3 linked regions of the Homo sapiens genome follow. The protein of the gene in region 1 purifies or fractionates together with the protein of each later gene. This does not show direct contact. Each region holds a gene or a part of one and is shown on either strand. Other genes may lie near its edges.

Region 1 (3,649 bases):
CTGTACTGGACAGGAAAGGAGGCAGAGACAGAAAAGGACTGAACAATTGTAAGGAAAGGGAAGGATTAATATTCTAGAGATCTCAGGGAATTTGAGAAAGGGGGATAGTTGCTAATTTAAGGTAAAAAAAAAAAAGATTTACAAAAATGGATTAAAAAAACACTAAAAATTTTATAACAGTGGTATCTCTGGTAAAGGGGTTTGGCCCAATTTATACTTAAATAAATATTCCACTTTTCCATCATATATACTTTTTCATAATTCAAAATAAGAAAAGTTATTACTAAATAGGAAGAGCAAGAAAAATGGAGTGGAAAAGATAACTTTTGGTCAGAAACACAAGATATCCCAAATTGTGACATTAGCTGGAGCAACCCTGGCTGACTCACTGTTCTAAGTGGCTAGGCCTTTTAGGTCTGTTCTTCCTAAAAATTCTAATACCTACTTTCCCCTCAACTTTCTACTTTGGTAATTTTCAATCCTACCAAAAAACTGAAAGGACAGTAAAATGAATACACATATATAATCTTTACCTAATTTCACCAACGTTAGTATTTGTAGCGTTAGCCTTCTCCTTTCCACCCTCTGAAACAAAACAACAGGCTCTCTTTTACACATCACATTCAATTCTCTAGACAATGGCTTGGCCATGCTCCAGTTATATATGCAGTGGTGTCACAGGTGAGCTTTCCCCATTTCCCAAACGCCTCTATTATGGATCATGTGTTTTTTTTTTTTTTTTTTTCTTTTGAGACAGAGTCTTGCTCTGTTGCCCTGGCTAGAGTGTAGTGGCATGATCTTGGCTCACTGCAGCCTATGCCTCCCGGGTTGAAGTGATTCTCCCGCCTCAGCCCCCCACTGCTCTGGGCACGCCTTTGAATTCCTAATCTTCAAATCAAAATTATCCCTCCTGTACTTTTATACCACACACACACTGTTCCTTGGTTTAAGTACATTCATTATTCATTCTCTGAGTTTCCGTCGTGTCCATTTCTGAACCACATCCTTCCATTTTCTCTGAAGACATAGTACAGAAATTTAAAGTTATTTTGCAGCTCTTTTTTGCAGTTATTTCTATAGTCATCTTCTAAATTGACTCTAGAAATGCCTAATCATTTCAAATTTTCACTCCTTCAGCCTAATTTCCATTTTGAATATAGCTATTATCTCTCTCATTTATGATTTACTCTTCACACTAGATTCATCTCACGTTATAGCACTAGCCAGGCAAGTCACACTATTAGGTTAATATTAACCTCATGTAGAGTGGGTATGATTTTGGGAAAAACAACTTGCAAAATCAGGGACTCGGAGGTAACAAAAAGGTGGAATATAACCTGAATATAATGGGTCAGAAATTCTGCCATAAGCCAATTTCTTTTGCTTTCTTTCCTTAGCTACAGTTTTCTCTAATCTCCATACTCTGCAGGGGGAGAGGAGAATCTCTTGCTTGGATCTATTCAAACTATGAAATATATAGTTAAAAAATGACTCTTTATGAAGTTGCCCCTCTTGACAAGGTACCCAAACTACCGTTCTTTTTAAATTTTTATTTATTTATTTATTTTTAGAGAGACGATCTCCTTCTATCGCCCAGCCTGGAGTGCCACGGTGTGTGATCACAGCCCAATGCAGCCTCAAACTCCTGGGCTCAAGCAATCTTTCCGCCTCCCAGTAGCTAGGACTATAGGTGTGTGCCACTACGCCCAGATAATTTTTAAATTTTTTTTTGTAGAGAAAGGGTCTTGCTATGTTGCCCAGGCTGGTCTCATTCTTACTACGTAGTGTTTAGCGCATATTTTTGGTTTGAGACAAGTTTAGTCATCATAACAATTAAAGTAGTTTCTTTCAAATGCTTGTTTATATTAGGAAAACTTAAAAATTCTAAGTAACTTTAAGTAGTAGATACTGAACCTTGAAACAAAAACATACATATAATAGTGGAGGAAAAGGGCAAGAACAGAATAAAGATAAAATTTGAATGGATCGTTTCTAATACCTTCAGCTATTTCAGAAAGAATAGCCTGAGTGATACAAAAGAGATGTCTATAGGGAAGAGACATGAGAAGAAATTTCATAACCCAGCCAGGATTACCTTATATCCCAGGAATAATGAGCTACAGAGTTTCTCTGAACTTTTAGAAAAATGGATTATTGGTATATAGTCGGATCTGCAGCTTTTCCTTTCATAGATACTGGCAGGGTATTTATGAATTTTTCAGAATTCCAAATTTACATGCAAGTTAAAGATTTTCAAGCACTTTTATGATAATTTAAACTAATCCATACTGAAACAGCTGCTGAATAAAAAAATATAAGATGAAACTTTGTGTCCTGATTAATCAAAATGCTGGAACCAGTTGCATTCTTGTGCAACTTCTTCACAGTATACTTACCGCCATTCTTTGCTTTTCTCCACCACTGAGTACGTCCATCCAATCCTGAACACTGTCCCAGCCTCCTTCACGTTCAAGGATATGACCCAACTGGACATTGTCTAAGTATTCCTTCAGTACCTTTCAGCAAAATGATTAAAGATGAAATTAAACTTAATATAAGCCAACATTCTTAATAGTGGTTTATTTTTTAAACTGGAATCACTATAATTCTATTGTCTGTACCACTTAAAAGATACATTTCAGAAAAGAATGTGGCACAAGGTAGCCCTGAACCTTTCAGCTCCTAGTATCTACACCAAACTTGACAAAATATGTCTAGTAGCTTAAAGAGAATAACACTATTGTACACAGTAAAAGGATGATGGCAATGAGAAAACAAACAATGGTGTAAAGGTTAAGATTAAACTCTTTTTAAGCCAAGGGATTAACATCTTACCTCAGCTTAGAAAATCACAATTTACAGCTTTGGAAGGCTTTACAGCTTAAGATAAACTACCTGGCATTTAAAATACTTAATTGATTAAAATAAATAATCTGGAGTATTTTCAGTGGATCTAGGATATAAACATTCCCTTACTAGGTCAGAAATTCCCTTCCTTTTCTGATCTTCTCGTCCATCTGGATATATCACTTGATCTCGAAGTGTTCCAAGGGTCATGTAAGGTCTCTGACAGTAGTAGAGCAAAAGTCAATTAGAAGCAACATGAAAAAATAAATAAACAAAAAGATCTTTAGATCAAAGATAACTCAAGCTAGGTCTTACCTGAGGAACATAAAATAATTTTCCTCTTTCAGGTTTAGTTAGACGTCCTCCAAAAAGAGGCCATAACTATTAAAGAGAGAGAAGGGAGAAGAACAATTGTAAAATTTACAAAGTGGTAGACAGTATGGCAAAATAAGACTGCAAAATTTTGAGGCCAACTTGTACTTACTTCACCAAGAACACGGAAAAGTGAACTCTTTCCGCAGCCATTTGGACCACAAATTAGAACATTAGCCCCAGATCGAACCTGAAAAAAAAAAAAAAATCAGTCTGTGAAGTAATTAAATCAAATTAACATATACTTAATCAACATTTCCTTAGACTCAAATATTAATAGCTCCTGGCTAATTATAAGCCTTCTATTTGTCTGTAAATGTAGCATTAGGTAGAGCAGTGAAGAGGTATTGTGAAGGGACCTTTTACTTTGTTTACTTCCAATTTTTACCATTACTTTTTTTTCACTTAAAAAATTATTATTGCTGGGTAC
Region 2 (3,649 bases), on another chromosome or scaffold:
ATACGAATGTAACATGTTAATCAAGAAATACAAGCAACTTTTTAAAAGTTTTAGAAGAAGATATTTTCTTTTAACCAACAATTATTTTTGAAACTTGAATTGAAAAGTTGTGCTGGAATCAGCATAGCTAGAGCACTAGCTTTGTGTGCAGCAATGAAGAGCCCACCACCTGAAAGCCAATTCACACATGGCTTCATTTACAGACAACAGCTGGCTTGAGTCATTGTTAATAACTGCATGGAAAATTGTGAATATAATTAAAATTGCAGCCCTTGAATAGGTATCTTCAGCATGTTAAGAATGCAGCGGCAGGCTGGGCACACAGTGGCTCATGCCTGTGATCCTAGCACTTTGGGAGGCCAAGGTAGGTGGATTGCTTGAGCCCAGGAGTTTGAGACAAGCCTGGACAACATAGCAAGACCCAACCTCTATTGGCGGGGGGGGGCGGGGGGAAGCAGCAGCAGCAAATACTCTGTTTTTCTGTTTTGTCAAGAGGAAATATGCTAACAATACCTACTCAAATGAAGGATATACTTTTTTTTTTCTTTTTTTGAGACAGAGTCTTGCTCTGTCGCCCAGGCTGGAGTGCAATGGTGTGAGCTTGGCTCACAGCAACCTCTGCCTCCCAGGTTCACGTGATTGTCCTACCTCAGCCTCCCAAGTAGCTGGGATTACAGGCGCCTGCCACCACGCCTGGCTAATTTTTGTATTTTTAGTAGACACAAGGTTTCACCATGTTGGCCAAGCTGGTCTTGAACTCCTGATATCAGGTGATCCGCCTGCCTTGGCCTCCCAGTGTTGGGATTACAGGCGTGAGCCACCGTGCCCAGCGGATATTCATTTTTTTTTATAACACTGATGTCATTAAAACATATCTATGATTTTAAGCGGCTAACTCAAGTGCCATACCTCTATGACAGACAGTATAGTGACCAGCTTGAACATATCATTTGAGAGTAAAATTATAATTCTCTCTTTTATTTAAGATTGGTTTCACTCTGTCACCCAGGCTAGAGGGTAGTGGCGCAATCATAGCTCAATGCAGCCCCAAACTCCTGGGCTCAAGTGATCCTCCCAGCTGAGCCTCCCGAGTAGCTAGGACTTACAACAGGTGTGCTCCATCACACTTGGCTAATTTTTTTTCTTTTTCTTTTTCTTTTTTGTAGAGAGACAAGGTTTTGCTATGTTGCCTAGGCTGATCCTGACCTCGTAACCACAAGCAATCCACCCACCTGAGCCTCAAAAGTGCTGGGATTACAGATGTGAGCTACCATGACTGGCCACAATTCTTTTTTGTTGTTCAGACAGGGTCTCACTCTGTCTCCCAAGCTGGAGTACAGTGGCGCAATCACAGCTCACTGTGGCCTCCACCTCACAGGCTAAGGCAATCCTCCCACCTCAGCCTCCTGAGTAGCTGGGACTACAGGTGTGTGCCACCATGCCCAGCTAATTTTTTTTTGTTATTTTTGGTAGAGATGGAGTTTCACCCTGTTGCCCAGGCTGGTCTCAAGCAATCTACTCGCCCCAGCTTCCCAAAGTGTTGGGATTACAGGTGTGAGCCACTGTGACCCGCCACAATTTTTTTTTTTAGCACGGCGTCTCGCTCTATCTCCCAGGCTGGAGTGCTGTGGCGCTATCTTGGCTCACTGCAAGCTCTGCCTCCCGGGTTTACGCCATTCTCCTGCCTCAGCCTCCCGAGTAGCTGGAACTAGAGGCACCTGCCACCAAGGCTGGCTAATTTTTTTGTATTTTTAGTAGAGATGGGGTTTCACTGTGTTAGCCAGGATGGTCTCGATCTCCTGACCTCGTGATCTGCCAGCCTTGGCCTCCCAAAGTGCTGGGATTACAGGTGTGAGCCACCGCGCCCGGCCCGGCCACAATTCTTAGTAACAAAATATGCAGACTAAATAATGATACAAATGGCTTAACCAAAGAGTTTTACTCTTTTCTTTTTTCTTTGAGATGGAGTCTCGGCTCTGTCGCCCAGGCTTGTGTGCAGTGGCACGATCTTGGCTCACTGCAACCTTTGCCTCCTGGGTTCAAGCAACTCTTCTGCCTCAGCCTCCTGAGTAGCTGGGACTACAGGCACACGCCACCATGTCCAGCTAACTTTTGTATTTTTAGTAAAGACATAGTTTCACCATATTGGCCGGGTTGGTCTCGAACTCCTGACCTCGTGATCTGCCCGCCTCTGCCTCCCAAAGTGCTGGGATTACAGGCGTGAGCCGCCACGCCCAGCCAAGATTTACTCTTTTCTAACAACTAGGTAGACTTAAAACCATATTCAATTACTGCACTAAACCTGAAAACATATTTCCTAGAACTGAATTCAACCAAAAGGACAGATCTACACATTGCCATCTCCAAAATTAAAATACTCAACTTTGCTTTCGAGTGCCATACACTTGTCAACTTGATGTAGTTTTCAGTGAGAATTCTTGTAATAATTTTTGTGTCCATTTGAATATCTAAAACATCTAATAGAAATATTTAATTGTTGCTCTTCCCAACTCTATAATTCAAAGGTGGGGCTATCTAATTTAGTACAACTAAGAGCAAGAAAAGAAATCAGTTAAATATGAAACCTTAACTTGGACTTTAGTGAGTCTTTCACCATTCATGTGGTGGTACAATAATGTGAACAATCATTGCTTTTCCTGATACTGATTTAAAAATACTTCTTTGATCTTACAATAAAAACATTTTGAATTATTCTTTTGTGTTTATCTAAAATCAGTGGTATGCACTGAAGACCCATCACATGGTCCACAAATTCCAAATGTTTGAAAACACTACTTTCTCTACTACACTACTTCCCCTTCAAAGGAAGCTATCATTTCTTCCTGTGCATGTTAGAGAAAAACAGAGAACCAAGGACATTTTGTTTGCCCTTATTATTAATCTTCTCATATTAGAAAAGCACTTCATTATCTGCATTTATGTTGCCACATTTTCAAAAACATTGGTCTGATTTCAGTATGAATAGCACTTATAAAAAACAATATATATAATAATTATTTCCAATTTTTCCTGAATTCCCTCTGCCCCCAAAGACATTCTTTCCTTATGACCTTCCCAGAACCCAAGCTGCCTTCCTATACCTCTTGGTTACAGTCAAGGGTTATAAAAAAATGTTTAACAACTGGCATGGTATAAACACCAAACCAAGAGATTGACACCAATTTATAACTGTATGGCTGTAATGGAACAGGCTCACTAAATATCAGCCTTAGTTATACTGCTGCTAAAGAAGCAGCCTTAGAATGCTTCTTGTAAGCAGTCTGCTATACTTTTTTTCCATGCTAGGCCTGTTCTCAAAGATCTTTGGTTATTTCTTACCTGCCACTTCACAGAAAAGGGATAGCAGGGTTCATGAAAGAAACCACATAAATTGGATTCCAAAGATGAGTTTAACGTCACATCTTATTAAATATTTAATTTCTCTACTTTTATTCCTTAAAAGGAAGAATTAAGGAGAAGTATTAGAACATACTACTGCTTTCTTTCTCTTACACCGTCTCCAGATAATTAAGCTAAGTTAGTTTTTTTTTTAAAAGTCAGCTTTTTATTAGAGCTTTGTTATTCAATTATATCCACACAGGTATGCAAGTTCTTTCTCCTTTCTATCAAACAGACAGTTAATACACAG
Region 3 (4,255 bases), on another chromosome or scaffold:
TTGCCAAAGTAGTTTAGCAAAGTTCAGTTTCTCTCCTGGGAATCATAGCAGCAGTGTAACTCTGCCCATGAGCAGCAAAGAAATATGGGTTCAAGTTTCTGCTAACTCCTGGTGTGGACAGGTCACCTCCCTCCTACCAACCTCAGGGTCCTCATTTGTAAGACTGGGCTTGGCCAGGCGCGGTGGCTCACGCCTGTAATCCCAACACTTTGGGAGGCCGAGGCAGGCGGATCACGAGGTCAGTAGTTTGAAACCAGCCTGGCCAATATGGCGAAACCCCATCTCTACTAAAAATACAAAAATTAGCCGGGCGTGGCGGTATGCGCCTGTGGTCCCAGCTACTCAGGAGGCTGAGGCAGGAGAACTGCTTGAACCCAGGAGGCGGAAGCTGCAGTGAGGCAAGATCGCGCCACTGCACTCCAGCCTGGGAGACAGAGCAAGACCCTGTCTCAAAAAAAAAAAAAAAAAAAAAAAAAAAAATTGGGCTTGGTGGTCTCTTGGCTTCTTTCCAGCTCTAGAAATGACTCCCCAATAGTTTTCTGCTTAAAAACTTACTCATTACCACTGCAGATTCCGGATTACATATTTAATAACATATTTACTGAGGCACCATATAAAGGGTTCCGGGAGTCTCTAAAGAGCTGGAGCTACAAGAAGCCTAGGCAGGGTTAGAGTAACAAATGTGTCTATGAAGAGTGGGGATGAGTGGCATTTGCTGGGATATGGGTGTAAAGTTGATAAGGTCATGAAGGTTCAACAGATATTTATGGAGTGCCTAGTATGTGGTGGGAATAAGACTATTATCAAGGGCTCTAAAGCAGTCAGTGTACATTTTAGAGTGAAGAGGGGCATTGCAGGGTGCTAGTCCTCTTAAGCTCTGACCGGCAACCCAACCCCGTGGAAACTGGTATGCCCACTTTGAGGAGGTTGTCTGACCGTTCCAGGGTCAAGCTGCATCACTGCAAGGTGGAAACGATGGAGTGAGGCAGGCTTAGAGCCGATGTGCCTTCCAGGACAGGTAGGAGTTCCAGATAACAGCAACACATTGGACAACGGCCAACCTAAGGAACAGGAATAACACAATGAAGAGGAGGAAGGCTAAGCAGTGAGCAAGGGCTGGAGATGGGAGCATGAAATGGCAAAGGAGGGATCATGACAAAGGATTGGCAGGTTTAGGTCTCTTTCCTTCAGCACCTTTTTTTTGAGATGGAGTCTCCTCTGTTGCCCAGGCTGGAGTGCAGTAGCACAATCTTGGCTCACTGCCTCCCGGGTTCAATCAATTCTCGTGCCTCAGCCTCCCAAGTAGCTGGGACTACAGGTGTGCTCCACCACACCTGGCTAATTTTTGTATTTTTAGGAGAGACAGGGTTTCACCATGTTGGCCAGGCTGGTCTCGAACTCCTGACCTCAAGTGAGCCACCCACCTCGGCCTCCCAAAGTGCTGGGATTACAGGTGTGAGCCACGACACCCAGCCCTTTCAGCACCCTATGAAGGGCCTGTGTGGCTTGCACTAAAGGACAACTGGCTCAAATTCTAGTGCCATCCCAGAGCTCTGTTTCCTGGCTGAGAGCCTCAAAGGCTAAATATTCAGCGGCTCTCTTGCCATGCATAGCTCTGTTAATCACAGAAAGGGCCCCTATCTGGGCCCCTTCTAAGTTCATTGATCTGTCTTGTACCAGCTGAGATTTCATCTTCCGAAATGTACGGACTATCATATAAAGTAGCATCTTTCTGTTTTAAATTAACCTTGCTCTGGTTTCAAAGAGTGTTGCAAAGGACCCTAATGTTTAGGATTTGGTTCATAAGTCTGTATTCCTTTTTTGTTTTTTCGGGTTTTTTTTGAGACGGAGTCTCGCTCTGTTGCCCAGGCTGGAGTGCGGTGGCAAGATCTTGGCTCACTGCAACCTCCGCCTCCCAGGTTCAAGCGATTCTCCTCCCTCAGCCTCCCGAGTAGCTGGGACTACAGGCACCTGCCACCACACCCAGCTAATTTTTGTATTTTTAGTAGAGACAGGGTTTCAACATATTGGCCAGGCTGGTCTCGAATTCCTGACCTTGTGATCCACCTGCCTCAGCCTCCCAAAGTGTTGGGATTACAGGCGTGAGCCACTGTGTCCAGCCTTTTTTTTTTTTTTTTTTTTTTTTTTTTTTGGAGACAGGGTCGTCTCACTCTGTCACCAGGCTGAAATGCAGTGGCACAATCTCAGTTCACAGCAACCTCCATCTCACAGGCTCAAGTGATCCTCCCACCTCAGCCTCCCGAGTAGCTGGGACTACGGGCACATGTTACCATGTGACTGGCTAATTTTTTGTATTTTCTGTAGAGATGAGGTCTCACTATATTGCCCAGGCTGGTGTGAAACTCCTGGACTCAAGCAAACCTCTTGCCTCAGCCTCCCAAAGTGCTAGAATTACAGGTGTGAGCCACCGTGCCCAGCCAGTCTGTATTCGTTTTAGCTATGCTACTCATGTACATTTTGGCCCTGTTCCCTCTGAAGCGTTCCATATTTTCCCCTGTTCCCACGATCCTTCACCTTCAAGCATTTGAACCACACATCTTCAGTGCCACTATCTTTTTGGGTGCAGTTCAGCAACTGTCTTTATTGTGAGTGTCTGACCAGGCTCCTACTTGGCCTTCTGGTCTACCTCTCTGTCTAACCTAGGCTGCAGCACCCCAGCCACTGTCCCTCCAGATATGCCATCAAAGACGGAGCTCAGGTGGGATGGAGACAAGGGTGGTAGAAGCAGGATCCTCCCTAGGGAGATGAAGAAGGTCAGTGGGCAGACACTCTGGGACAGTTTCCGGAAATGGCAAGACATTCTGAATAACACGCTTGGGAATCTGAGGAACTCTGATCACGGCTCAGTGTTCCGTTTGGGGGTCTAAGGTAGCTCAAGGTTGAAATGAGAATCATTTTGTCTCCAACTGTTGGTAACGTGGGTCTTCCTTGATGGGTGGGGTAGGGGTGCAACATACCTGTAATGAAGGGGGACCAGGTAGAAGTTGGCTAACTGCACAGCAGGCCATAGCTGCAAGAGAAAATGTAAAGGTTGGATGGCTGCCCCACCACCTGACCCCAGACTCACTGTCTTGCCTGGCCCTACCCCAACTTCTGCACACAAGAAAAAGGTGAACAGTTGGGTGATGGCTTCCCTATTTATGGTGCCCATCCTGGGAATGAAAGAGTAATCCCAACGGAAGGGTTTCCCATGTCAGGAGGACCCCCCAATCCCAGGACAGTTCTAGACTTAAGGAAGCAGGAGAACAAGCAGTTGAGGTGTCAGCTCTTACATAGTAGTTGGTGATAAGGGCATCAGGATAATCCTGGGGAGACAGAGAAGGAACAAATTAACACTTGCGCCTCCAAGCAGCTCCCACTTCCCAGTATGAATGTCACACACAGACTTGGGTTCAAAGAGCACATTCCTGCACCATAACCCTCAGCTCCTCTCCTCCATGGCCTGGGGCCCTACCTGCACTTACCCCCTTTTTTATCCCTGTAAAACCTGTCTTCTTCCCCTGGGCTGTCAGCCCGCCAGCCAGAGACATTCTCCACACCTGCCCAGCTCACCCGCTGTAGTTTGGCCCAGTTGTCCTGGGCTGACAGTCCATTAAGTGCCCCTACCAGTGGGAGAAAGCAGCCTAGAAAACACGGGGCAAAGCCCCCCTAGGGAAGAGAAATTAAAGTCCTATGAGTGCTGAAATCCCCACCTACCCCCAACACAGCTCACCCTCCCCACTCTGTTCTCCTGCTCACCTGATCCAACAACATCTTCTTCAGTGCATCCACTTTGGTGGTGCCAGGGATGAACCGATCCAAAACCTTGTACCAGCCTCCTACCACAGGGCCCTGGAAGTAAACCCCAGATAGCAGCAGGCTGCAGTGAGGGAGCCCTAGGCCTCTACCTCACTAAGCTCCCTGCCCCAAGTATCAGAATAGGGGAAGTGGACACTAAGAAAAAAGAGGGCGGCAGGTTGGCTTAGGTGTGAGAGTCCAAGGGAAGCCAAAGGATGGCAAAGAACTAAGACCACTGTTGAGTCCACTGAAGCCCTGTTGAGGGGAGAACTTACCACAAAGCCACAGCCCAGGGACACCATGGTCAGAGTCCGGCCTCTCTGGTGTTCCTGCAGACCCCGCCTCTCCACCAGCTGCTGTGAGATAATGTCACCCAGGCCCATCAGGGACCCTATGCAGGGTACACAGGTGTTGTCAGGACATCTCCTGGGATGGGCTGCCATTCCAAGGAGGGAGG

What was found.
Region 2: the proteins of ABCD3 (region 1) and MARCHF5 purify together in Homo sapiens (affinity purification with western blotting, with the first as the bait; one study listed by BioGRID). This does not show direct contact.
Region 3: the proteins of ABCD3 (region 1) and MPV17 fractionate together in Homo sapiens (co-fractionation; one large-scale study listed by BioGRID). This does not show direct contact.

What each region holds. Positions count from the first base shown.
Region 1 is NC_000001.11:94,498,362-94,502,010, reverse strand, and holds part of ABCD3 (ATP-binding cassette sub-family D member 3), read right to left. Parts: intron 3,410-3,649; coding exon 3,332-3,409; intron 3,229-3,331; coding exon 3,163-3,228; intron 3,067-3,162; coding exon 2,977-3,066; intron 2,517-2,976; coding exon 2,397-2,516; intron 1-2,396. UniProt on the Homo sapiens protein: Broad substrate specificity ATP-dependent transporter of the ATP-binding cassette (ABC) family that catalyzes the transport of long-chain fatty acids (LCFA)-CoA, dicarboxylic acids-CoA, long-branched-chain fatty acids-CoA and bile acids from the cytosol to the peroxisome lumen for beta-oxydation.
Region 2 is NC_000010.11:92,311,545-92,315,193, reverse strand, and holds part of MARCHF5 (E3 ubiquitin-protein ligase MARCHF5), read right to left. Parts: intron 1-3,649. UniProt on the Homo sapiens protein: Mitochondrial E3 ubiquitin-protein ligase that plays a crucial role in the control of mitochondrial morphology by acting as a positive regulator of mitochondrial fission and as an important regulator of immune response.
Region 3 is NC_000002.12:27,308,921-27,313,175, forward strand, and holds the end of MPV17 (mitochondrial inner membrane protein Mpv17), read right to left. Parts: intron 4,190-4,255; coding exon 4,074-4,189; intron 3,853-4,073; coding exon 3,760-3,852; intron 3,670-3,759; coding exon 3,574-3,669; intron 3,327-3,573; coding exon 3,294-3,326; intron 3,032-3,293; coding exon 2,979-3,031; intron 1,062-2,978; coding exon 992-1,061; 3' UTR 572-991; downstream 1-571. UniProt on the Homo sapiens protein: Non-selective channel that modulates the membrane potential under normal conditions and oxidative stress, and is involved in mitochondrial homeostasis.